Homo sapiens: one gene and its partners. The protein of the gene in region 3 purifies or fractionates together with the protein of the main gene of each other region. This does not show direct contact. Each region holds a gene or a part of one and is shown on either strand. Other genes may lie near its edges.

The links.
Region 1: the proteins of HAVCR2 (region 3) and MYO1D purify together in Homo sapiens (co-immunoprecipitation; 3 studies listed by BioGRID and IntAct, with this or other methods). This does not show direct contact.
Region 2: the proteins of HAVCR2 (region 3) and ZDHHC5 purify together in Homo sapiens (co-immunoprecipitation; 3 studies listed by BioGRID and IntAct, with this or other methods). This does not show direct contact.
Region 4: the proteins of HAVCR2 (region 3) and AGPAT1 purify together in Homo sapiens (co-immunoprecipitation; 3 studies listed by BioGRID and IntAct, with this or other methods). This does not show direct contact.

Annotation. Positions count from the first base shown.
Region 1 is NC_000017.11:32,874,118-32,881,164, reverse strand, and holds the start of MYO1D (unconventional myosin-Id), read left to right. Parts: upstream 1-4,040; 5' UTR 4,041-4,292; coding exon 4,293-4,387; intron 4,388-7,047. UniProt on the Homo sapiens protein: Unconventional myosin that functions as actin-based motor protein with ATPase activity. Plays a role in endosomal protein trafficking, and especially in the transfer of cargo proteins from early to recycling endosomes.
Region 2 is NC_000011.10:57,663,730-57,671,135, forward strand, and holds the start of ZDHHC5 (palmitoyltransferase ZDHHC5), read left to right. Parts: upstream 1-4,384; 5' UTR 4,385-4,458; exon of another isoform or gene 4,459-4,867; intron 4,868-7,406. UniProt on the Homo sapiens protein: Palmitoyltransferase that catalyzes the addition of palmitate onto various protein substrates such as CTNND2, CD36, GSDMD, NLRP3, NOD1, NOD2, STAT3 and S1PR1 thus plays a role in various biological processes including cell adhesion, inflammation, fatty acid uptake, bacterial sensing or cardiac functions.
Region 3 is NC_000005.10:157,106,043-157,112,944, reverse strand, and holds the start of HAVCR2 (hepatitis A virus cellular receptor 2 precursor), read left to right. Parts: upstream 1-3,900; 5' UTR 3,901-3,961; coding exon 3,962-4,019; intron 4,020-5,982; coding exon 5,983-6,318; intron 6,319-6,902. UniProt on the Homo sapiens protein: Cell surface receptor implicated in modulating innate and adaptive immune responses. Generally accepted to have an inhibiting function.
Region 4 is NC_000006.12:32,167,688-32,173,089, forward strand, and holds the end of AGPAT1 (1-acyl-sn-glycerol-3-phosphate acyltransferase alpha isoform 1 precursor), read right to left. Parts: exon of another isoform or gene 5,251-5,402; intron 3,819-5,250; coding exon of another isoform or gene 3,810-3,818; coding exon 3,610-3,809; intron 3,384-3,609; coding exon 3,250-3,383; intron 2,914-3,249; coding exon 2,738-2,913; intron 2,574-2,737; coding exon 2,478-2,573; intron 2,430-2,477; exon of another isoform or gene 2,352-2,429; coding exon 2,279-2,351; intron 1,762-2,278; coding exon 1,589-1,761; 3' UTR 525-1,588; downstream 1-524. Other genes in the region: EGFL8 (epidermal growth factor-like protein 8 precursor), read left to right, coding at 223-269. UniProt on the Homo sapiens protein: Converts 1-acyl-sn-glycerol-3-phosphate (lysophosphatidic acid or LPA) into 1,2-diacyl-sn-glycerol-3-phosphate (phosphatidic acid or PA) by incorporating an acyl moiety at the sn-2 position of the glycerol backbone.

The DNA of each region.
Region 1 (7,047 bases), on a different chromosome or scaffold from region 3:
GATTTACAGTCTCACATTTTATGACCCATAGGTTCACAGACCATTCCATATTCATTTATCAAGCAACAGTTTATTAAGCACTTCATCTCTTAGCACTATGCTAGGAGGTGCCAGAATTACATTTACATCAAAAACCAGAAAAGACAGCTTCCAGCCCTCATGGCCCTTACAAACGAGTGAGAGAGACAGACAGTAGGCTCAAGGGCATTTAGTACTGTAATGGGGGCAGCACTTCCAGGATGCTGCAGGAGGCACAGAGGAGGAACAGCCAATTCTGACTCAGGAGATTATGGAAGCCTTCTTGGAGGAAGTGATGTTGAGACTGAGAGCGGAGGGATGAGCGGAAGTTAGCTAGGTCATAGGAGTGAGGGGTGGGGTGGCGGGGAGAACTTCAGGCAGAGAACAGGATGCACCTTCTCAGGGGCATATGGGTATATTTGACATCTAATTATTTTTGTTTTTAGAATTACCTGTTCAGTGTTTATAATCTCCTAGCACATCTATGCCAAATAGAGCTAAGAGGTACCCTGGACCAGGGTTTTCAAAAATATCTGCTGGTTCTTCAGTTCTGGAAGGTTTGCAAAATTCTGATGTGACTTTGATTTCTAAGTGTTATTTAATATTTTTAAATTAAAAATTTTTATTTAGCACAGTTTTAGATTACTATTTAATTTTTAAGTTTAAATTTCAGGCCGAGTGTGGTGGCTCACACCTCTAATCCCAGCACTTTGGGAGGCTGAGGTGGGCAGATCATGAGGTCAGGAGCTTGAGACCAGCCTGACCAACATGGTGAAACCCCGTTTCTACTAAAAATACAAAAATTAGCTGGGCATGGTGGCATGCACCTGTAGTCCCAGCTACTCAGGAGGCTGAGGCAGGAGACTCGCTTGAACCCGGGAGGCGGAGGTTGCAGTGAGCCGAGATCGTGTCACTGCACTTCAGCCTGGGCGGCAGAGCAAGACTCCGTCTCAAAATAAATGAATAAATTTCAAACTAATTGCAAAGTTACAGAAAAGTTGTGAGGATAGTACAAAAGAAAATCCCCTCAAAAGTCCCATATATTTTTAATGACTTTACCACTTGTTAGTATTTTGCATCATTTGCTTTAATCATTTATATGTCTACCAATATATATGCACGCCCTCCTTCCACCTCCTCATCTTATTATTTTTATTATTCTTGCCAAACAGTTCGAGACATCATTTTACTCCTAAATACTTTAGCAGATACCTGCTAGAAACAAGGACATTATCTTGCAGAATCCCAGTAAAATGATCAAGTTCAGAAAAACTAGCATTGATACTATCCTACTATCTAACATCGCGTCTATATTTGAATTTCACCAATTATCCCAACAATGTCCTTTACATTTTTCTGGTTGGAGATCCAGTCCAGAATCACCCATTGCCTTTAATAGTGATGTGCCTCAGCCTCTTTGTCTTTCACATCATTGATATTTTTGAAGAATACAGGTCAATTGTTTTGTAGGATGCCCCTTAATGTGAGTTTGTTTGATGCTTCTTCATGATTAGATTCCATTTACGTATTTTTAGCAGGTAAATGATATGTGTCTTTTTCAGGAGACCATATCAGGAGGCTCATGGTGTCTGTGTGTCTCATGATTGGGGATATAAACTTTTATTTGTTTTATTTTTTGTATATTTTAAACTGTAACAAAAACATGCATCTCCAAATGTGTTTCTATTCAAATTTTATCACAAAGAACATTCATAATGAGCTAATCTGCTCTAGGTTACCTTGACTGAATGCAGACCAGAGTATTCAGTCTCTCCTGCCGGCTGTGCATATACCTGAACTTTGCTCAAGTGTGTCATTGATTAATAATGTTGTAACTGCACATTGGCCTAGAAATGCTGAATGTAAAGTTGTATGGGTAACAAATTACTGCTTAGTTATACAAACAAGAATTTGCTTGACACAGTACAATGAAAACAACATACAAAAGTAAACTGGAATCCTGAGGCTAATAGTGAGCCCCATTGAGCAGATTTGGGTTCATCATGAGAGCATCAATGCCTAATTTTATACTAATTTGGACTTATACAAGAAATTAATAAAATACCCTTTGCATATGTTGTATATGTGTTTTATATGTTGGGTTCCTATATAAGATGTTGATTAAAATGAGGATCTCTTACTTTGGCCATTTGGAAACCACATTGTATCCCACCATAGCTCCTAACCACTGTACAATTTCTGCAACTCTCTCATCATCTGCAAGCCGTGATGTTTCTTTTCCTGGTACCTGGGATTTTGCCCTAATTTTTAACACCTACAGAGCTCAGGGAACACACATATATAATTTACCAAAAGGTTTTGGGGTGTGGTCCCTGGATGCTCCAAAGTGCATACAGTTTGAGATTTCTTTCTTTCCTTCTTGAAGTTCAGTTCTGCTTATGTTAAAACATGCCAATACAAACATTAGGAATACAACCATACCCTATGCAATAACCTACTTAGCCACTGACCGACACCTCCACAAATGACCCAACCATAGGACAGTCCTACCTTATTCCAGAGCTTTTATTCCACAAATGAGGACACTGATATCGAGACAGGTGGATCTCCTCCTTCTGAAGGACAGCTGCTAACGGTAGTCAGATGCAACCCAGCTCTGCTGGTGCCAGGGATTGGGGTGGTTTTCTGATGGCAGAGGCAGTCCCTCAGGAGGTGACAAAGCTCCTTTCCTTTCTCTTAGCAAGTGTGGGTGGCTGGCAGCTGAAGCAGGCCTTGGGCAAGGTCCTTCAGTCTGGTTTACTCATCTCAAACTCAGCCAGAGTTGAAGCCCAGCCAGGTCCTTGGAGGCCTCTAGATTTCCTCGTAGATTTTGTAATAGAAGATGTCCTAACAGAAACACAGGACTGAATAAATGTAGATACCTTAGAAAGTCATTTATTTAAAAAAAATAGCTGGGCATGGTGTCATACACCTGTAGTCCCAGCTGCTCAGGAGGCTGAGGCTGGAGGATTGCTTGAGCCCAGGAGTTTGAGGTTGCAGTGAGCTGTGATTGCACCACTGCACTCCAGCCTGGGTGACAGAGGGAGAATTTGTCTCCAGAAAAAGAAAAAAAAAAAAAAAAGAAAGAAAGTCATTTGTAGTATATTTTCTTTGGGAAAATACATTGAGTTCAAAAAGAATTTTCCAAGCTCAACCAATGTATCAATAAATTGGAGACTACTTACAACTCACTTCATTCCACTGAACCAGTATGGATTTCATATTTATATATGCAAAGTAGTACAATAGTTATTTGGTGGATGCAAAAAGAATGGTCCCATGCTCAAGACATCCGCAATAATCCTGGAGAGATGATACAAAGATATATTAAAAACTTAATAATCATATAAGGTAATGTCTGATGACATGCTCGGATGAGTGGAAGAGAAAATGGGCCACTGAAGAATGGAGGTAGTCAGACGTGGTTGAACGCTGCGGCTCCTAAGTCAAATGACCTGCGTGAAACCGCAGCTGCTCCACTTCCTAGTCGTATGGCAAGTTTCTTAAAAGTTCTCTAAGGCGCTGAGAACAGCTCTGGGCATTTTTGGTGCCCCAAAAATGTTAGCCATTATTATTACCTCTCAGTCTGTGCTTGAACCACCACTTCAAGAATGGGCAGGGTGTGAGTAGAGAGGCGGGAGTGGGTTTTGGAGCAGGGTGACAGAATCATAATGAATTGTCCTCGCGAAAAGCTCCACGAACTACTTTTCTAACTTTGTTGGCAGCTACCAAGTGTGGGCGGCAGGCGGCCATCCTCTTGGCCGCCTGAGATCCCAGCGCCTGTCCCCAGGGGGCGCTGCCACCCAGCTGCCGCCGCCCGGCCCAGCGCGCGTCCCCGCCGCCCACCCGCGCGTGCGCGCCGCCCAGGTGAAGAGGCGGCGGCCAGGGCCGCGGCTGGGGCGGGCTCCTCAGTGGGCCGGGAGGGGCGGAGCCGGGAGGCCCGGGCGGGGCGGAGCCGGGACGAGCCCCAGGCTGGAGGCGGGACCAGCCGCTGCCGTCTCCGTCTCGGTGTCCCGGCCCCTACAGCGCCCGGCAGCCGCGGCGGGAGGAGCGGAAACTGTCGGGTGCGTCCCGTTCGGAGCCGCGCCGGCCGAGAAGGCGCCGAGGAGCAGCGAGGCGGCCTCTGTCCGGCCCGGACCCGCCGAGCGGCGTGCGCGCCCCCTCCCCGTAGCCTCGCGGCGCGGCCTCGCCCCGGCCCCTCCCGAGCTCATCGCGGGCCCACGGAGCGGCCCCGGAGGCCCGAGCGCGCCCACCTGAGCCCCCGCGCTGGCGCCATGGCGGAGCAGGAGAGCCTGGAATTCGGCAAGGCAGACTTCGTGCTGATGGACACCGTCTCCATGCCCGAGTTCATGGCCAACCTCAGGCTCAGGTGAGGGCGGAGCGGCCGCGCGCAGGGGCGCGAGGCTGCGCTTTCCCGAGAGGGGGCGCCTCGGGGCGCGGCCGGATCCGGGGTGTCGGGAGCGCCCAAGCTCCAGGGATGGAGGCGCGGCCGGGCTGCGGTGTCCGGGGGTCTGCCAAGCTCCGCGGCTGCGCTTTCCCGAGAGCGGACGCCCCTGGGGTGCGGCCGCTTTGGGGTGCGGGGGGCGTGTCGAGCTCAAGGGCCGCGCTTCCCTGAGAGGGGAGCCCTGGGCGCTGTCCGGGGTTTAGGTGCAGAGGGTGTGCCGCGCGGGAGGGCGCGCTTCCCCGCGCCAGGTGAGGGATGTGGGCGGGCCGGTGACCTCATGGAAACTGAAGGGAAATAACTTGAACGAGAGTTGCGGTGGCCCCGAAGGCCCTAGGAGGACTGGAGGATTATTTTGGAGAGAGGCTGGCGTCTCATCCCGGCTTTACACTTGCTTCTTTTCTTTCTTTCTTCGCCCTTCTTTTTTTTTTCCTCCTGGCGTAGTTCCATCCTGTCATTCAGGATGCTATGGAGTGATCCCTGAGCTGTCTGTTCCGGGACACTGGCTATTTTTTTAGTTACTCTCTAAACGTAATTAGACACGTTTCCAGACATCGAAGAGACTGCTGTACTTGCCAGTGCCAAGATAAACTGTCTGAATTTGACAAGACGTTCATGGTTTTGGTTTTTTTCAAGGAGTTAGTGGATGGAGCTCTTGTGTTATTAACATCCTTGAGAACGTAGTCACAACTCAACGCCCCAAAATGGGCTTCCAAGATGTGGATTTGTTTTAGAAAGCCCTTTACATGCGATTATTTCACCCTTGATAGAGTAATATGTAAACAGTTTTAAAGTAGTTTGACTTAAACATTAAAGTAAGTGGAATTTCAAAATAGCTGAGTTTTGGTGTGCGTGTGTATGTTTCCCTGCAAGCTTTGGCTGCATTTCTTCTAAGGTTTATAGCTAAACATCATTCCTTAAGCTTATAAAGTGAAAGTCATAATCTAGGCTTGGGTGCTTAACCCTAATTTCATTATTAACTACCCCTGTCAATCCAGTTGACAGGGGTCAATCAGGTTGATTACATACCAGCATAATGATAGGATGTTACATTTCTGATCAAGGTTTGGATGTACAACTTTTATAGAAATCACCCCAAATATTAATCAAAATGATATACCTCTACATCAGCTATAACCAATACCCATTATCATAGTGATTAAGAGTCAGACTGTTGAGATTCAAATTCTAGTTCCACTGCATTCTTGCTGTGATCTTTGAGCAAGTTACTTAACCTCTCTGTGCCTCAGTCTTCCCGTCTGTAGGATTGGGGTTGTCCTGAGGGTTAAATGAATTATTAATAATATGTGTATACATACTTCAAAGATTAGTGCCTGGCAAATCCATATTAGTAAAACTGTTTTAAGTTTTCCCAAGTGCACATAAAATAGATAAAGGGGTAAGTTACATAGCAATTTCATAGATTAAGGTTGTTTTAAATTAAGAGATTCTACTCCTCTCCCCCACAGGAAATAAGTTGTGTGCTTTGAGAAATGCCTTTATAATTTTGTCACTCTCAGTTATAATCATTTCAGTTTTTCAGACATTGGTACATTTATTATGTACATACTGTATACAAGACCATGTAGTAACAGTTGAATATGAAGCCTTTCATTTTAACCTCCATCTTTCACCTCCAGCAAATACATGGGCTTAGCCAGAGCTTTTGCAGAATTTTCAGAATTTGAAATTGAAGGCATAGAGTCTAACAGGGCTACATTAGTTTGTAGGACTACTCCTCTGTAATAGAATTAAAACTCTTGTGGTTTTTAAAAAGTAAATTGAGGGAAGGCACTTAGAATTTCTGCTTTTTTTTTTAAAGCATTAAGTCTCTTAAGTGTGAAGTTTGAATCTCAAAATAGATTACTAAGGTGAGCCTAACAACTCCTATGTGTACAGAAGAGAATGCTGCAATTTATTTATATTTATATTTATATTTTTTAGAGATGGGCCCTTAGAGTTGCTATGTTGAGCAGACTGTTCTTGAATTCCTGGCCTCAAGCAATCCTCCCATCTTGGCCTCCCAAAGCACTAGGATTATAGGTGTGAGCCACCATGCCCGGCCGAATGCTGCAATTTAATTCTACTGTGTGCAAGGTACTCTAGGAGATAAGCTAGGAGTATCCAAAGAACTACAAGATGTGCTGCTTACCTCTCGAAGAGGTGACATCTCAATGAAGACCTGGAGAAAGGTGGAATTTTCTATTGATTTAAAGAATAGTTCAAGAAAACAACATCAGGAGGCTGAGACAGAAGGATTGCTTGAGCCCAGGAGTTCAAAGCTGCCGTGAGCTATGATCACACCACTGTACTCCAGCCTGTGTAATAGAGCACGACCCTGTCTCTTAGAAGAAAAAGAAGAAAGAAAACAGAGAGAGACAGAGACACAAAGAGAGAGAGAGAGACAGAGACAGATAAAGAGGAAGGAAGGGAAGGAAGGAGAGAAAAGAAAAAAAGAAAGGAAAAGAAAGAGAAGATAAAAGCCTTATAAAGCTTAGGTGATTATTTGTCAAGTAATTATAGAAATTGTTCTGGAAGTTCAGAAGAGAGAGAGATACCTTAGGTTGACTCCAAAACACCTTATAGAG
Region 2 (7,406 bases), on a different chromosome or scaffold from region 3:
GCAATGGGAACCAGAGGGGAGGGGTAGTTAAGTAGAGTAATTATTTGATCTTTTTTTTTTTGGGGGGGGACAGAGTTTCATTCTTGTTGCCCAGGCTGGAGTGCAATGGCGCAATCTGGCTCAGTGCAACCTCCACCTCCCAGGTTCAAGCGAGTCTCCTGCCTCAGCCTCCCGAGTAGCTGGGATTACAGGCATGCGCCACCATGCCCGGCTAATTTTGTGTTTTTAGTATAGATGGGGTTTCTCCGTGTTGGTCAGGTTTGTCTCCGACTCCCGACTTCAGGTGATCCGCCCGCCTAGGCCTCCCAAAGTGTGGGATTACAGGCGTAAGCCAGCACGCCCGGCTGATCTCCTCCCTCCCTTCCCTCTTTCTTTCTTCCTTTCCTTTCTTTTCCTTTCCTTTCCTTTCCTCTTTCCTCTCTCCCTCCTTCCTGCTCTCTTTTTCTTCTCTCTTTTTTCTTCTCTTTTTCATTCCTTCCCCTTCCTTCCTATTCCTTCCTTTCCTTTCCTTCCCTCACCTCCTCTCCTCTCTCCTCCCCTTCCCTCCCCCTTTCCTTCCCTCCTTCTGAGTTTTGCTATGTTGCCCAGGCTAGAGTGCTGTGGCATGACCTCGGTGCACTGCAACCTCTGCCTCCTGGGTTCAAGTTATTCTCCTGCCTCAGCCTCCTGAGTAGCTGAGTAGCATGCACCACCATGCCTGGCGAATTTTTGTATTTTTAGTAGAGATGGGGTTTTGCCATGTTGGCCAGGCTGGTCTCGAACTCCTGACCTCAAGTGATCCATCCGCCTCGGACTCCCAAAGTGCTGGGATTAGCCTGGCTGATTACTTTACATTTTGAAAAGATCACTGCTTTGTGGAGAGTGGGTTATAGGGCAAGTGTAAAAGCAAGGACAGTAATTAGGAGAGTTTTGTAAAAGTGCAAATGTGAGAAATGGTGGGGGATGAAATACTAGGGCAGCAGAGGTAGAGCTGGTGAGAGGATATTCTGAAGGCAGGACTTCATAACGGAGTGGTGAGGAAAACGATGGAATCAAGGATGCATCCTGGATTTTTTTTAACAAGACACACTAGGTTAGACATGAGATTGGGAAAACTCAGGGAGTTGTCCCCCTGAGGGACAAGGGAAACTCGAGGTTTTTGGCAGTGTTAAATATGAGCTATTAATTGTCCATGGGTGGCGGAGGTTGCAGTGAGCTGAGATCGCGTCACTGCACTCCAGCCTGGGTAACAGAGCAAGACTCCATCCCCCAGCACCAGAAAAAATGCAGGAGCGAAGGAGATAGGATCCACAGCACAAAGGGAAGAACTACCCTTTAACACATACAGAGACATTTCACAAGGACAGGAGGAAAGAGCAGTATTTAAACACAAAGAGGTTGACCAGGAGCAGTGGCTCAGACCTGTAATCCCAGCACTTTGGGAGGTCGAGGCAGGCAGATCACTTGAGCTCAGCAGTTGGAGACTACCCTGGCCAACATGGTGAAACCCTAAAAACACAAAAATTGGGAAATGCATGTTCTAGCTTTCTGTGTGCTTAGGTGCCCATGCTACTGAGGGTCTAAGTCCAGGCAGCCGAAGAGTGTGGTGAGCAAGATGAACAAAGATGCGCAGATGAGAGAAGCCATTAACATATTAAAGTAATTTAAAGTTTGGGTGGTCTGGATATCATACTGTTTTAGCCTAGATTTTACTCTGGATACTTTTCAGAAGTAGCTGGCACTTTAAACCATATGTTCTATTAAACGTTCTTTCCAAGAAATATCTTGAGTGATCCCAAGGAAAACTGGACAAGTGGAATCTCTGTCTTTCAACTTTGGGATAGTGATTATACCTCTGTTAGTGCTCATCCACCTAACAAAGCTTGGCAATCCAAGTTAGTATCCCAGGGGAGTTTAGTTTGGTTGGATGGTGGAAGACTGATTTTTTTTTTCCATTTAGCACTGTCTAGCCAAGAGACACCACTATTTACAAGTTCTTAGACAGCTGAAAGGAAAATAAAAATGCCTAATTTGTGGAGGAAATCAGGAAGTCTAAAAATCCAAGAAAAATATTGCAACAGAAAAATGAAAGCTGACTTCATCTTAAAGAAACATGGCTTACAGGTAGAAAATGCCAATATCAGGCCGGGCACTGTGGCTCACACCGGTAATCTCAGCACTTTGGGAGGCCGAGGTGGGAGGATCATTTGAGGTCAGGAGTTCCAGACCAATGTGGCCATCATGGTGAAACCCCATCTCTACTAAAAATACAAATATTAGCCAGGTGTGGTGGCACATGCCTGTGATCCCAGCTACTCAGGAGGCTGAGGCATGAGAATTGCTTGAACCCGGGAGGAGGTTGCCATGAGCTGAGATCGCGCCACTGCACTCCAGCCTGGGTGACAGTGTGAGACTCCCTCTCAAAAAGTAAAAAATAAAATATCAATATTGTATCTTCAATAATTTACCTTTCATATGGTCTAAAGAGGTTTTTGTTTTGTTTTGAGACGGAGTCTTGCTCTGTTGCCCAGGCTGGAGTGAAGTTGTGTGGTCTCGGCTCACGGCAACCTCTGCCTCCCGGGTTGAAGCAATTCTCCTGCCTCAGCCTCCCGAGTAGCTGGGATTACAGGCTCCCCCGACCATGCCCGACTAATTTTTGTATTTTTAGTAGAGGGAGTTTCACTATGTTGGCCAGGCTGGTCTTGAGCACCTGACCTCGTGATCCGCCTGCCTTGGCCTCCCAAAGTGCTGGGATTACAGGTGTGAACCACCACGCCAGGCCAGGTCTGTTTTAAAAATATAAAGTCGTTATAAAGAACTCTCAAGTGTGTTGCAATAAATGCTGGATTGACGCTGTTAACAAGAATAAACTAGAACTTATAATATATGCCATGTCAGAGAAGGAACTAGATTCCAGAAAACAGAAGGTAGTTCTCTTTTACCTTACTGCCTAATGCTAGTGTCAGAACCACAGTAAAGCCAGCAACATTTGAGACCAAACCCGAGGACAGTCCTCAGGATTTTACAGGTGAGGGGCCTCGGCTTCAGGGAAGTGGCTTGTGAAACACCTTTTTGAGGGACCATTATGTAATAGCTAGAGTTGCTTTCGAAAAAAGAAATAGCCTCGAGCCGAATGGGGAGAGAACATGGGGCATTGCTATTGGGTTCACAGCTGTCTTGGGCTAATCAGGGCAAAGCGTAGCACTATGACCTATGCAGAGTTAGCTCGCCAGGGACAGTAGCTATTCTAGAGAACCTTTTGCTTTTAGCTTTGTATTCTAGGATTGGGTGAGGTGAGGGATGCGGGCGCCCATCCCACGTGTGACAGTGGGAAACTAATGGAATTCAGGGAGTTCACTTCCCGGCTCGCACTCCGGGGGCGGGAGGGTGCTGCCACCGCCTCAGGTCGCGCGCTCCTTAGGCTTCCCTCTCACGGTTAGCGCTACGGCTCCAAGGCTGGCGCCTGCTCTTCTTCATCTCCCTCCCCGGCCCTTGGCAGGAGCCTCGCCCTACATTGGCTCTTCAAGTCCGGGCGTCCCCTTCATGTGGGAGACACAGCCCAGACCATTCCATCGCCCTGGATTCTGCCCGGACCAGCGACCTCGCCGGACTGAAGATTTCTCCAGCAAGATTGTTTTAAATAAAGTTTTTGCCATCAAAAAAAAAAAAAAAAAAAAAAAAGGAGATGGGAAGGAGAAGAGGGAGGCCTAGTCGCCAAATGGTTGGCCAATCCGCCGCGAAGGGGCTGAAGCAGGAAGCGGCGATAGTCGTCGGTAATTGGCTGCGCTGGAAGCCTGTCTGGACTGTACCACCTCAGTAGGAGAGGGGTTGCTGAATTCGAGAAGGTAGCTGCTTGCTTTTGAGTACTTCTAGTACACACACATAATTCTTTTCTTATTTCCGGGGGTTTTTGCTTGGATTCAGTGGGAATACAACAGGACGCAGGAGAAGGGAAGACTCGCCTGGCCATTTCCTCATTCCTGACTCCTGTGCATTAGGCCAATCCTTGTCTCTTAGTTGTCCCCGCAACCCCACGGCCTTACGTGCGCGCTCTCGTCTTCTCGCGTGCGTACGTCGTTGTGTTGCTGCAGCCAATCAGGCCGCGAGGTCGCCGCGGTCGCCAGGGTTCGCGCGCACGCCCCAGATCGGAGTCGGGGTGGGGGCTATGGGTGAATGGGAGAGTGAGCGGGGTTGGGCGCGGCAGCGCGAGCCGCATGAATGAGACAAACGTGCGCCGCGCGAGACGTCGCGCGAGCCCGGACTAGGGAGCCAATGGGAACGCTGGAAGGGTTCGAGACCCGGCACTGAGGGCAACGGCCGCGCGCCGGCTCCGAGACGAGCGACGCCTGGCGGGAGCGCGCGGCAGCGGGGCGGGCGTGGAGCGTGCGGGGGCCGCGCGCTGCTTCTCTGAGGCAGGACGGCACTGCCGGGAGGCGGCGGTGACAACGACGGCGGTGGTGACGGGCACCGGGCTCGCGGGTGAGTGCGGAGGACACCGGTCCCTGCGGAACCGGAAGTGCCGTACCAGCGAGGTGGGAGGGGAGGGTGACCTCTAGGGAAGGGGGACCGAAGACGGGGAGGGTATTAAGGCCCTATTTCTCCTCCGGGCCGGGTCTTCCAACCGCGGCGGGACCCATGGGCCTTGGAAACGGACGACGAGTAGAGGCCGGGGATCCACGACCGCCAGGGCTCGGAACGGGTTAGAGACGGCCACTCAGCTCGAGACCGCGGTCCCCGGTGCCTGGCGCCCAGCCGCCGCCCCTTCCGCCCCCGGCCCTGCGCCCTCGGGCTCTGCGGTCCCCGCAGCCCGCTCTCTCAACCTCGGTGGGCCTGGCCGCCGTGGATTCCTTCTTTTCGGTTTCAGCGGTCGTCAGCCCTGCCCCAACGGGTGATTCTCCTTTCCCCAGTCCCGTGGTGGGGACCGGGTGCTGTTTCCCTTTTACCGCTCTGCGGTTCGAGTCCCTCGCTCCACTCTGCTGATACTTATTTTGGCTCAAGCTTCATCCTGTTACCTGTTCTCTCTCACCCGTCCGCTTCCTCCTCCTACCGCCACCAGCCGAGTGCTCCATGCGTTTAGTACTTTGTACTTTTTAAAGTGGAGCCCGAATGCGTTTGTCAATATTTTACCTATATTTGGGGCAGGCAGGTGGAAAGTGTTTTACCCACTTGGCCAAATGAAACACTGAAATAAGAAGTAAGAAAGTTGCTAAAAGTTAGGAAGGCAGTTGTAGGATCACATATACGTTATACGCTAGACTATTTTTTGCCTTGGATTCTTCACTTCCTGGTTAATGCCATCTTGACCAAGTTGATCTAACATTTGCATATCATCCTTCTATCTCAGTATACCTCTGTCCTGGATCAAATATCTTCAGAATGCTCATTATCACCCATTGTATAAACTTAATGTTTACAAAATTATATTGCCATGTATTTTGCTACCTCGGTATATAATGATAACACCCACATTAAACTTCTTGGCTCTTTCTCCCATACCTTGACATGTGAATTATTCCATGGTACCTCCATTACTGTGCATTTAGATTTACTCTATTGTACTGTTACACCGCTTATTTCAACAAAAAATAGTTGTGTTGTCCTTGGTACTGCTGGTATCCACCTATTTAAGGAAATACCTGTATTAAACCTTATTAAAGCCTTCAAACCACATATCCTGTATTGTTTGTTTTACATATACATATTTCCATTTCATAGTTTACTCTGTGCCTCAATATGGCATACATATTACTTTTTTTCTCATTTTTGAGACGGAGTCTGGCTCTGTCGCCCAGGCTGGAGTGCAGTGGCTGCTATCTTGGCTCACTGCAACTTCCACCTCCCGGGTTCAAGCGATTCTCGTGTCTCAGCCTCCCTAGTAGCTGGGATTTCAGGCATGCCCCATCACGCCCTGCTCATTTGTTTGTATTTTTAGTAGAGACAGGGTTTTGGTATGTTGGCCAGGCTGGTCTCGAACTCCTGACCTCAAATGATCCGCCCGCCTCGGCCTCCCAAAGTGCTGGGATTACAGGCGTGAGCCCCCGTGCCCAGCTGGCATACATATTCTTGTATACTTTTTTGATACTAGTATGGATTCAAACTGTTGACTCTGATGAACCATACTCACCCTTGTGGTTTCATCCTAGTATCTGCAGCACATTCTTTTGCTAAGAATTGGTTCATCTTTATTTATACCCAATAAATTGTTAGGTTTTTGATTTCCCTTCTACTGTGTAGCCCCCAAGCATCTCAGATGCTGTTCTCTTTTGTGTTCCCAGTATTATACTCCCAAAATTGCATGGCCTTTCATGACTCTGTATTACTATGTCAATATTAGTCCATGTGACTTTTTTCCTGTGGAAAATATATGAAACAATATATAGTATCTAAATGATATTCTACTCTAGATAAAATTTAAGTAGTATAATTTTCCATCTTTTCTAGTCTTTGGGATTTTGAGGGAAAAGTTTGCTTTAATAGTACATATTGGCTGGGCAGAGTGTCTCACACCTGTAATCCCAGCACTTTGGGTGAGGAGGCAGATCACCTGGAGGTCAGGAGTTCGAGACCAGCCTGGGCAACATGGTGAAACCCCATCTCTACTAAAAATACAAAATTAGCTGGGTGTGGTGGTGCCCTCCTGTAATCCCAGCTGCTCGGGAGGCTGAGACAGGAGAATTGCTTGAATCCGGGACTCGGAGGTTGCAGTGAGCTGAGATCACACCATGCACTTCAGCCTGGGTGACAGAGGGAAACTGTGTTTCAAAAAAAAAAAAAAAGTACATATTGTCTACAAATCAAGAGTTTGCTTTTGTTAACAAAGTTACTGAGGCCTACATTCCAAATGTTAGGCTTCCATTCCTGTAGGAAACTGAGAGTTAAATAATCATTAAATCAGGGACTAGAGAGGATTTATGTTTTCTAGGACTATAACAGTTTCTTAGAATCTTTTGGCGCTCACTGTATTCTAATACTGCTGTTTGGCCCTCTGAAACCCTAATTTTAAAGAGAGAAATGAATCGTAAGGGAAGGCACCTTTGCCTTCCATGCCATAGGTGAGAGAGGAAGTGGTACATTATAGGGCACATTTATATTTTGTTATCTGAATCTTCTGATTTTTTTTTTTTTTTTTTTGAGACAGAGTCTTGCTCTGTTGCCCAGGCTGTAGTGCAGTGGCTCACTGCAACCTCCGCCTCCTGGGTTCAAGTGATTCTCCTGCCTCAGCCTCCTGAGTAGCTGGGACTACAGGCGCCCGCCCGGCTAATTTTTGTATTTTTAGTAGAGAAGGGAATAAAACTACTTTCTTTTAAAATTCTAACTTAAAATTTTTGGCTTGCAGATTCCAAGTTATCATCTCTGGGCAGGTAGTGGATGAAAAGGTAGAAAGGGTTTGTGTCACCAGAGGGGCATGTGACCTCTTGAGTTCTGAA
Region 3 (6,902 bases):
TGAGATAATCAGGGAGATTTGGCTATAGACTGAAGTACTAGGTGCTTCTAAGGCATCATTAAATTTGTTATGTGCGATAATGATATTATGATTATATTAGCAGAATGTCCATTTTTGTTTGTTGGTTGGTTTGTTTTGAGACGAAATTTTGCGCTTGTTGTCCAGGCTGGAATGCAGTGGCACAATCTCGGCTCACTGCAACCTCTGCCTCCCTGGTTCAAGCGATTCTCCTGCCTCAGCCTCCCAAGTAGCTGCGATTACAGGCACCCACCACCATGCCTGGCTAATTTTTTGTATTTTTAGTAGAGATGGGGTTTTCACCGTGTTAGCCAGGCTGGTCTCGATCTTCTGACCTCAGGTGATCCACCTGCCTCGGCCTCCCAAAGTGCTGGGATTACAGCCGTGAGTCACCACACCCGGCTTCAGAATGCCCATTTTTTAAAAAGGAAGATTGCACACTAAAGTACGTAAAAGTGAAATAGCACGATGTCTGGGATTCGTTTAAAAATATTTCAGCAGACTCGGCATGGTGGCTCACACCTGTAATCCCAGCACTTTGGGAGGCTGAGGCAGGAGGATCCCTTGAGCCCAGGAGTTTGAGACCAGCCTGGGTAACCTAGTGAGACCCTTGTCTCTAAAAATAAATTAAAACAAATTTAAAAAAAAATAAAGGGCCAGGTGCGGCGGCTCCTGCCTGTAATCAGCAATTTGGAATGCTGGGACGGGCAGATCACCTGAGGTCAGGAATTTGAGACCAGCCTGGCCAACATGGTAAAACCCTGTCTCTACTAAAAATACAAAAATTAACCGGGCATGGTGACAGGTGCCTATAATCCCAGCTACTTGGGAGGCTGAGGGGAGGCAGAGGTTGCAGTAAGCCGAGATAGCACCATTGCACTCCAGCCTGAGAGACAAGAGTGAAACTCCATCTCAAAAAATAAATAAATAAATAAATAAAAATAAAATAAATAAAATAAATAAAATTTTAAAAATAAATATTTCAGCAAATAACAATAGGAAAATGCAAGTTTCAAAAAAGGTATATGGTATTTTGTCTAAGAAAAGAGAGTATGAGAATATATATTTTATTTTCTTGGGTTTGCATTGGGAGTATACACAAGAAACTTATGAAAATGAAAACCTGGTCGGGTGCAGTGGCTCAAGCCTGTAATCCCAGCACTTTGGGAGGCTGAAGTGGGCAGATTGCAAGGTCAGGAGTTCGAGATCAGCCTGACCAACATGGTGAAAACCCATCTCTACTAAAAATACAAAAATTAGCTGGGCACGGTGGCAGGTGCCTATAATCTCAGCTACTCAGGAGGCTGAGGCAGGAGAATCGCTTGAACTTGGGAGTCGCAGGTTGCAGTGAGCTGAGATCGTGACGCTGCACTCCAGCCTGGGTGACAGGGCGAGACTCTATGTCAAAAAAAAAAAAAAAAGAAAACCTATAGCATAGGTGGGAGAAATGGGGGTAAACATGGAAGGATGGGATCATGGGATCAAGGCTTCTTGAGCTTTTTATATTCCTTTTACTTTTTAACTATTTGAATGTATTATCTAAAGTTTTTAAGAAAATAAACAGGAAATAAAAGTTAAGTGAACATGAAAATGTTCAGAACCAGCTCCCTACACACACAAGAGAGTTAAAGGAGATCTCTAGACCCCTTCATATCTAGACTTTAATGAACTAATAAATTGTTAATGTTTTATAAAGCTGGTCTCAGTAGCAATTCTAGAAATGAGCAGAAAACAAAGTGGTAAAAACAAAACATCGCTGGGCACGGTGGCTCATGCCTGTAATCCCAGCATTTTGAGAGGCCGAGGCAGGTAGATCACCTGAGGTCAGAAGTTCGAGACCAGCCTGACCAATATGGTGAAACCCTGTCTCTACTAAAAATACAAAAATTAGCCGGGCATGGTGGTGTGCGCTCTTAGTCCCAGCTACTTGGGAGGCTGAGACAGGAGAATTGCTTGAACACAGGAGGCGGAGTTTGCAGTGAGCCGAGATCGCGCCACTGCACTCCAGCCTGGGCGACAGAGCAAGACTCTGTCTCAAAACAAAAACAAAAACAAAACAAAACAAAACACAGAAACTGAGGGCTGATGCTTTTAAGAGCCTTGACCAAGTTCATGCTGCTAATAAAAATAACCCCAGACCCCATATTTAATCTATTCTACCTTATGCTTGAATATGGTCATTTGCTGGTTATTAGTTATGTGGGAAGACAAACATTAAATTAATAAAACATAATTTATAGTGGAAAAAATCTGTCACTTAGGGGGCTTATGCTCTCATTCTAAATCACCAATCATGTGCCTTTCGGCAAATCAATTTTCTGAAGTCTCAGATTCCTTGTCTATAAAATGAGAAATTGGCCGGGCGCGGTGGCTATGCCTGTAAACCCAGCACTTTGGGAGGCCGAGGCGGGTGGATCGCCTGAGGTCGGGAGTTCAAGAACAGCCTGACCAACATGGAGAAACCCCGTCTCTACTAAAAATACAAAATTATCCGGGGTGGTGGCACATGCCTGTAATCCCAGCTACTCAGGAGGCTGAGGCAGGAGAATCACTTGAACCCGGGAGGCAGAGGTTGCAGTGAGCCGAGATCATGCCATTGCACTCCAGCCTGGACAAAAAGAGCGAAACTCCATCTCAAAAAAATAAATAAATAAATAAAAATAAAATAAAATAAAATGAGAAATTGATTATGATCTCTTGAGTAACTGCCACTCTGCAATGCTATGGGAAGTACACACATTGAACAAGTTGCATATTTATATTAAATGCCATTTGTTTATATTGAACAAATTTGGTATTTATACCCAATGCATTTAATGGCATAAATGTGAATGACAAAGAAACTCAGGAAGGCAAGACATAGAGGAAGGCCACTGGCTTTTCAGAAACCACTCAGCCTGTGAGCTCACTTCCCTTTTATAAAAAAAAGCTTTTGCTTTTAAGGTGTCCAGATAAAGGTCACACTCCCAGAGCTGAGGCTACGTGAGTCTAAGCTGTTACCTCAGTTATGGGAGTGTGGCTGGAACTCAACACTTTCTGATCATTCATGGCCAAAGCCTCTTGGGGTAGGGGAGAGGGGGCACCTTGTATGCATGAGATGAAACAGGATACCAAGATCCCCTTAATTCTACTCAGAGTAGAGGAAAGGAACTGTTGCCAAAAGGAACATGTTTTTTCTAAATTGAAGAGTTGGAAGTTTGAAGGTCAAAGTCAGAATATTAGAACAGAGAGCCATGCATGTATTATCTAATACAATTTTCTCATTTTATAAATTATATAAATGAGGAAACTGAGACTCAGCAAGGTTATAGGATACAACCTAATCTGTGTTAGAAGAAGGATGAGAGTGAGGCTTATGCTGGGAGTTGCTATGGTCTGTAAATGTGAGGATAAGGAACATGCCATTCACTGTTGTGTTCCACTTCCTAGTCCAGTGCCTGGTGCAAAGTAGGGGCTTCATAAACTTTGGTCACAGGCCTGATGAAGGGACTGATTTGAGTGAATGAATCCATGGATGATGCATCTGTACTTTGTGTTCCCCGCTAGTCAGATGGACTCGGACATGCTCCATTTCAGGTGTATCTCATCTGAGACATTATTAGAGGGTTCTCTTTATGTGCCATGACTGAGTAGCGTTTTCTTCCACTGAAGTATTGCTTCCTCTTTGTTGATATCACAGGACAGACATCAGAACACTTACAGGATGTGTGTAGTGTGGCATGACAGAGAACTTTGGTTTCCTTTAATGTGACTGTAGACCTGGCAGTGTTACTATAAGAATCACTGGCAATCAGACACCCGGGTGTGCTGAGCTAGCACTCAGTGGGGGCGGCTACTGCTCATGTGATTGTGGAGTAGACAGTTGGAAGAAGTACCCAGTCCATTTGGAGAGTTAAAACTGTGCCTAACAGAGGTGTCCTCTGACTTTTCTTCTGCAAGCTCCATGTTTTCACATCTTCCCTTTGACTGTGTCCTGCTGCTGCTGCTGCTACTACTTACAAGTAAGTCTCGGCATGGATATTTACAATGACATAATGGTGCTGTACAGAGGACAAGGGAGAGATACAAGGATGGCCATTGTAATGTTGTTTGTAATAGCAAAAGCTTGGAAGCAACCTAAATGTCCGTCGATGAGGGAGTGGGTAAATAAATGTGATATAATCATGATACAAACAGTGAGTCTGACAAAACATACTGGTATAGAATGTCTCAAAATTATAATGTTATTAAAGAAAAAAAGTTGCAGAATAATGCATATATTAGGCTTCTATTTGTGTGTGTGCATTGTCGGGGAGCAGGAATATGTGGACATTTCTTAATGTATAAGCTCTAGGAAAAGGAACCAGGGAATGGTAAAGAGTTGGGAGAGTAAGGCATATTTTTCTTTTCTTTTCTTTCCTTTTTTTCTTTTTCTTTTCTTTCTTTTTCTTTTTTTCAATTGAGATGGAGTCTCACTCTATTGCCCAGGCTGGAGTGCAGTGGTGGCACCATTTTGGCTCACTGCAATCTCCGCCTCCCAGGTTCAAGTGATTCTCCTGCCTTAGGCACCGGAGTAGCTGGGATCACAGGCGTGCACCACCACACCCAGCTAATGTTTTTAATTTTTAGTAGAGACAGGGTTTTACCATGTTGGTCAGGCTGGTCTCAAACTCATGGCCTCAAGTAATCTGCCCATCTCAGCCTCCCAAAGTGCTGGGATTACAGGCGTGACCCACCGTGTGCCCGGCCACTTTTTCATACACCTTTGATAGTGTTTGAATGTTTTTACTGTAGTTGAGTCATATGAAAACAAAGGGGACATAAAAAATCAAAAGAAAATATATAATGAATGTTTTATCATATATAAAATATATATAGTTTTTTTTTAATGGAATTAACTTTGTCATTTGAGGAAAATGAGGAGACAAGTCTCAATCATTTTAGGAGATTTGTTTGCCAAAGTTAAGGAGGCACCTGAGAGACAGGTCTATGACTTTCTCAGAAGATGATTTTGAGGGCTCCAGATTTAAAGGGGACAAGGTGGGATATTGAGAAGCACTCAGTTTTCACATAAAAAAGGGGGGGGGGCAGAGGAAAAATATGGGGAATCTGCATTTTACATTAGATAACACAGACAAAATGGGGTAGGGAAACAATCAGATAACGCATTTGTGTCTGGCCAGGGTGACCGCACCGGTAAAGATGAGCTATCAATCTGCATTGCACAGCTGACCAGGAATTTCCTTGTGGGCAAAATATGGGGGAGGTATGCAGCCTTTCATCCTGTAGCCATCTTATTCAGGAATCAAAAAGAGGAGGCAGGTTTCTGTGACCCAGTTCCCAGCTTGACTTTTCCCTTTGACTGAATGAGTTTGGGGTCCCAAAATTTAATTTCTTTTCACAACTTTAAACCTTAAAACAACTCCATGAGTAGTTTCAAATACACAAGATCCTTATTTAACCAAGGGTTTGTATTTACTGTGCACTTGCTGCTTAAAAAGAGAAGTATGTTAGGAGAGCCTCCCTTTGTTGATGAACAAGCAAGTAGCCCAGATGGGCGGGCCGTTTCCTGGCTGACCATGACTAATTTTCTGATTGTCTGTTTCCATCAGCCCTGTTCTCCCGTGTTCACAGAATTGGGCCACAATTCTCTCCTAGGGCAGTGTTTCTGAAAGTGAGGTTCTGAGACCAGCCACTTCAGCAACACTTGAGAACTTGTTAGAAATAAAAGTTCTCAGGCTCTACCACAGGCCAACTGAGTCAGGAACTCTAGCAGTTGAGCCCAGCAATCTGTGTTTTCGCAAGGCTTCCCAGTGATTCTGATGGCCTTCACATCTGAGAAGCATTGTCACAGCGAATCATCCTCCAAACAGGACTGCAGCAGTAGCTTCCTCTTTATTCTGTAAGACATGGCTTGCAGTTTTCCTGAAATGGAGTAACCTCACTCACCGCTTGAGTCTTGGCTCTCCTTCTCTCTCTATGCAGGGTCCTCAGAAGTGGAATACAGAGCGGAGGTCGGTCAGAATGCCTATCTGCCCTGCTTCTACACCCCAGCCGCCCCAGGGAACCTCGTGCCCGTCTGCTGGGGCAAAGGAGCCTGTCCTGTGTTTGAATGTGGCAACGTGGTGCTCAGGACTGATGAAAGGGATGTGAATTATTGGACATCCAGATACTGGCTAAATGGGGATTTCCGCAAAGGAGATGTGTCCCTGACCATAGAGAATGTGACTCTAGCAGACAGTGGGATCTACTGCTGCCGGATCCAAATCCCAGGCATAATGAATGATGAAAAATTTAACCTGAAGTTGGTCATCAAACCAGGTGAGTGGACATTTGCATGCCATCTTTATGAATAAGATTTATCTGTGGATCATATTAAAGGTACTGATTGTTCTCATCTCTGACTTCCCTAATTATAGCCCTGGAGGAGGGCCACTAAGACCTAAAGTTTAACAGGCCCCATTGGTGATGCTCAGTGATATTTAACACCTTCTCTCTGTTTTAAAACTCATGGGTGTGCCTGGGCGTGGTGGCTCACACCTCTAATCCCAGCACTTTGGGAGGCTGAGGCCGGTGGATCATGAGGTCAGGAATTCGAGACCAGCCTGGCCAACATAGTAAAACCTTGTCTCCACTAAAAATACAAAAAATTAGCCAGGCATGGTTACGGGAGCCTGTAATTCTAGCTACTTGGGGGGCTGAAGCAGGAGAATCACTTGAACCTGGGAGTCGGAGGTTGTGGTAAGCCAAGATCTCGCCATTGTACTCCAGCCTGGCTGACAAGGGTGAAACTCTGTCTCAAAAAAAAAAAAAGAAAAGAAAAGAAAAGCCAAAACTCATGGGTGGAATGTATAGATGGGATGAAAGGCCTAGATCAGTGGTTAGAGACCCTGACTCTCATTAGA
Region 4 (5,402 bases), on a different chromosome or scaffold from region 3:
CTATTCCCCAACTTTCCCCAAGACCCCTCTCCATTCAGGCATTCCCTCTTTCCTCCAAGCCCCTCTCCAACATTCACTATCCTCATGCCTCTCCACTTTACCATCGTTCTCTTCTGAAATCCTGTCCCCAGCCCAACAGTTTCACTTATTGTTTGGTGAGAGTGGCAGTGTAGTCCACTCCAGGCTGACCACAGCCACTGTGTCTGCCATGTCATTAACCAGGCTCCTGTGAGGACAACAGCCTGGGCCTCGGCGTCAATCATCGATAAGAAGCCTCTACAGCACCCCTGCCCCCTAATTTATACAGAAACCGGACCCACTAATCCTCTGGGATTGGCCGACTGTGAGCTGCAGATAAGGCTATCAGCCACCAAAGAGCAATGAACAATGGAAACTTCAGAGAGCTGAAGAAAGGGGGAGGCCTGTGTTCTTGGCCTGCCCCTGAGTCTTCTGGCTGGGGGCAGGTTGCCTGGGCAAGAACTGCTTCTTCAATTCCTTAACAAATGCAACCACCAACACCCAGATCTCTCTCTCTCTTTATTTTCAGTTTTTTTGCTGTTATCCAGATAATTAATAAAAACCAACCACGCAAAACTGGGTCCCACCCTCTCCTTTTGCTCCCAGCCTACCTCCCCAGTTGTGGGAACAGGTCTGGAGTGAGAGGCAGGGAGTGGCTAATGCCACCAGGAAGAAATGAAAACTGGCTCAGAGAGGGGGAAGCCTCAACAGAAAAAGAAATAAATTAAAAGCCCTCCTATCCCCTCCAGCCAGGGTTCGTTCCTTTCCCCAACTCCCCAGGGGGCAGAAGTGAGTGCAGCACCTGATGTCTGCTTCTTCCCCTTGTGTCTGGTGAGATGGTGCAGCAGGGCTGCAGGGGGCTGGGTGGGGTCATGTCCACTGAAGAACTGTACTATGGGGACAGAAAACCAGAAATGTGGAGACTGAACTGGTATCCCAGAGAGTGCACGACCCTGGGCATCTGGGCAAGGGCAGGCATGAGACCTCTGAATTAGAAGGGTCCAGCCCCCACTGACAGGAGGCTACACTGGGAGGGAAGGTGAAGGTGCTGAGGAAAGCTCCCATGATGAGCCTGGGAGTGCTTCAGGTATCAGCTTCCAGCCAGAGGGCGAGAAGTCCTCCTCACAAATGGATGAGTCCATTGAATCCATGGACTTTGGAGTGGGGGGGATTTGTTCCAAAGAATGGATGAGTCCACTGGCCAATGTGGGGTAGAGGGGTAGAGAAGACCACATAGGAAGAGACTCCACTGGGGATGGAATGTTCCCCTCCCTTGTGTAGGCTGAGTCACTGGAGATGAGGGGGAGGCAACTGTCCCACAGACAAGACAGTAGGAGGTGGGGGTCAAGAGTGGAGACTGCACCGAGGCAAGAGTCCATGGATGGGGCCAAGAGGGGGCAGGAGTGGCGCTGTATCCACATTCACTTCAGAAGTTGAAGATTCCAAAGAGGAGAATAAGTGGGGAGAGGGGAGACAAGGAAGAGGGTTTGGCCCTGCTTCAGGGCCCACTGGGTGGGTAGGTGTGGGGAGGAAGATGGGGACAGATGGGAGGAGAGCTCAGAGCCAGGGTTCACCCACCGCCCCCAGGCTTCTTCAGATAGTCACCACCACCCCGGCCATCAGTGGAGATTTCCCGGAAAACAGTGAGCATGGAGTGCCGGACTCTGTCAGCCAGAGCTGGGACGTCATCTGGTGTCAGCCCTTCCGTGGGCACTGGGGGCAGCACCCGCACCTGACATTGTCCTGGGGCAAGGGGAGCACCATCATGGCCTGTCCACCCAGGTCTTTGCCCACAGGTGGGGCCCAGCTTCCGAGTGATACTCTTCCTCAACCTTTCAGTTCTCTTCCCCCAACCCTGGACAACCATCCCTGGGCTTGCCAGCTGCCACTTCTGAGGCCCTTCTCCTATACAAAGCCTTCTCCAATCCCCAGTTCAGACATCTCCTCAGCACCCCTCCAGCCCCCCTCCTCTGGGTTTGGCATTTACTGCTGAATGAGTGTTATTCATTACAGCTTTGTGCACACAGGCCTTATCTTTCCTGTTAAGATTAGTAACAGCCTCTCTTGGTGGGACCAAGTGCTACCCATCTGGCAGGGTATGGTGGGTGCTTAGTAAAGACTTATTGGCTGATGTGGGGTTAGACTAGATGACTGTGTAGACATCTCATGGCTCTGACACTGAATGATCCCCCTGCCTCACAGGGATGTCCTCCCAGCCTCTCCGGACACACCCTACCCCAGAACTGCTCAAAGCCCTCACCCGAGGTGAAGCGACGCTCCTTCTTGCAGTAGAAGTCTTGGTAGGAGGACATGACTATGGGGACAATGGGAACCTGGGGAAGGGTTAAAGCAGGTCAGTCCACAGCTCTCTTCAGAGACTCCTACAATAAGCCCCTGCCCAGAGATGAGGGAATGGTGGGGGTTGGCAGCTGAGTAGCAGAACGAAGAGCAGTAGTCACCTGGGCCTGCACTGCAAGATGGAAGGCGCCACGTTTGAAGGGCAGCATGGAGCCATTGTGGTTTCTCGTTCCCTCAGGAAACACCCAGACCCTCACCTGGGGGAGAAAGAGGGTCAAAGAAGACAAATACATATGGAGGAGTCAGAATAGGTGTGATGTTATAATGGGACCTTTGAGGCCCACTGGCCCTGCATATCAGTTTATTTACAACTGTTCTACTCTGTATCCCTCCAATCCCCCATTTCCCCAGGATGACTCACGTCCTGGGTGAGCAGGGTCTGGGCGACCTCAGACATGACACTGATGGCATCCCCCGTGCGCTTCCGGTCGATGAAGATGACTCCTGCCAGCCAGCAGGCCAGCCCGGCAGAGCCAGCCCACAGTAGCTCGCGCTTGGCAATGGGCACACAGCGGCCTGGCAGTACCTCCATCATCCCTTGGGCAGGGTGGGAGTGGGTGAGGATCGGGGTGGAGGCAGAGTGTCACAGAAGGCAACCCACCTCACCCAGCTCATCACCCTCTGGTAGGGACTGGAGGTGAAGGAGGAGACTAGGCAGGGAGGGGGGCCCCAAGTGAAGGAAAGGGTGACCAAAAGTATATGTAACCTGCTTATGAGGGCAGTTCTACCCAGGGAATGAAGGCCTGAGTGGGAGGCAAGGGGGCAATGTCCCAGAGGAAGGGGAATTGAGGATCTCTAGGAGAAGATATTCTAGGGAAGGTTTCAGGAGGGGAGGCATGGCTGGGGGAGGTGTGCCCTGTGGTGGGGTCTCACCAAGCAGATCGAGAGAGCTCTGGTGGTTGGAGACAACAACATAGGGCTGCGAGGGAGGGAAGTGGTGAGCCCCTCGCACCTCCACTCGGATCCCGTACAGGTATTTGATGTGGAGCAGCATTAGACGCAAGATCCTGTGGGGTCATGGCAAGGGGTCCCAGTGGGATCCATTGATGTCCATCTGCATGCCTCAGCTCCCCCCACCTTACTGTCTTTCTGACCACCTTTGCAGTCCTCTCCCCATTCCCTGTCTCTGGTCTCTCTCAGTCTTTTCTACACACACCATGCCCCCTTCCCCCAATCCACTACTCACTTTGTACCCTTAGGTTCCCTCATTGCCCAAGACCCCTTGCCCCTCACTTCATGTTCTCGACGTTGCGTCCTCGCACGGCACACACAGGGATGGCGAGCACAGCCAGGAAGAGGATCCAGCCATTGTAGAAGGCCATCTTGAAGAAGTACTTGGCACTGGGGCTGCAGAACCACAGGGTGGGCAGCAGGAAGAGCAGCAGCAGGAAGAGCAGCAGCAGCAGCATCCATGCCCCTGGCCACAAATCCATTCTGGCCACCTGCAGGGGATGGGGCAAGGGACAATCAGCCTGGTTTCTGGAGGAGAGTGGGGTAGGCAAGGCACAGAAGGCAGGGCTGGGGGCTGGTGCTATGAGGACAAGGGCCTGAGACACAAACTGGGGCAGGGGTCTCATTGAAACCTTCCCAGGAAGGCTCTCTAGGATGAGGGTGGTGGAGAAAGAGCTCAGGACTGCTCTCCCACCACTCTTCCCAAAGGCTCCGGATATATTCAGACAAGAGACACAAGACACAGACATCTACAATTCACAGATACCTGATAATAAATGACAACAAGAATAATAGCTAACACTTGTAGCTGGTAAGGGTCTTATAATGGTCTATACTTGTGCTGTCCGAGAAAGTAGCCACCACCTACATGTGGCTACTTGAAATGCAGCTAGTCTGAACTGAGATGTGCTGGAAATGTAAAATACACATCAGATTTCAAAGACTGAATAAAAAACAAAATGTGAGATATCCATTACTAATCTTTTATGCTGACTACATTTTGAAATTATAATCTTGGGCCGGGCGCAGTGGCTCACGCCTGTAATCCCAGCACTTTGGGAAGCCGAGGTGGGCAGATCACGAGGTCAGGAGTTCAGGACCAGCCTGACCAACATGGTGAAACCCCGTCTCTACTAAAAATACAAAAATTAGCCGGGCCTGTTGGCGCATGCCTTTAATCCCAGCTACTCGGGAGGCTGAGGCAGGAGAATCGCTTGAATCCGGGAGGCGGAGGTTGCAGTGAGCCAAGATCACGCCACTGCACTCTAGCCTGGGCAATGGAGTGAGACTCCATTTCCAAAAAAAAAAAAAGAAATTATAATCTTTTGGATGTTATCAGATTCAAGAAAATATATTACTAAAATTAATTTCACTCTTTTTGCCTTGTAAAAATGTGGCTACCATAAAAAAATTACATTGTGGCTTGCATTATATTTCTGTAGAACAGTACTGGTCTATACATTAAGTTAAACTCTTAAAATGATGCATATGATAGTCTAGAAAGTACTATTACTATTTACATTTTATAGGAAATAGGCCCAGGGAGGCTAAATAACTTACCTGAGGTCATACAGCTCCTAAACAGCAGTTTCTAGGTTAAATCTAAGCCGCCTGTGTTCCTAACCACTCCATTACGCTGACACTGGTATGTATTGCATATATATATACGAACACAGCACACAGCATATATGGTGATTGTGACAGAACACTCACAGCCATATACCCAAGGGCCAAATGGCAAGATTAAAAGTTCGTGTCACTAATGCCAACAGACACACAGTCATACAAAGACTAACATGTTCACACATAGACACAAATTTATAATTACACCCAGTGACAGATAAAAGAATGTAAATGCATAACTAGAAAAATCCCTCTCCACCCAGGCAGCTCCCCTATTCCTAGGTAAACTTATGGACATACCTGGAATAGCTACAAAGACCAATCCTACCTCCAGACAGGCAAACGAATCCTACTACCCTTTCCCTTCCTTCTAGTGACACTTTGCGTGGGCAGGTACAGTGTGTGAGGCCTCACCAAGTGAAAAAAGGAGGGAATGGAGTAAAGGTGACCTA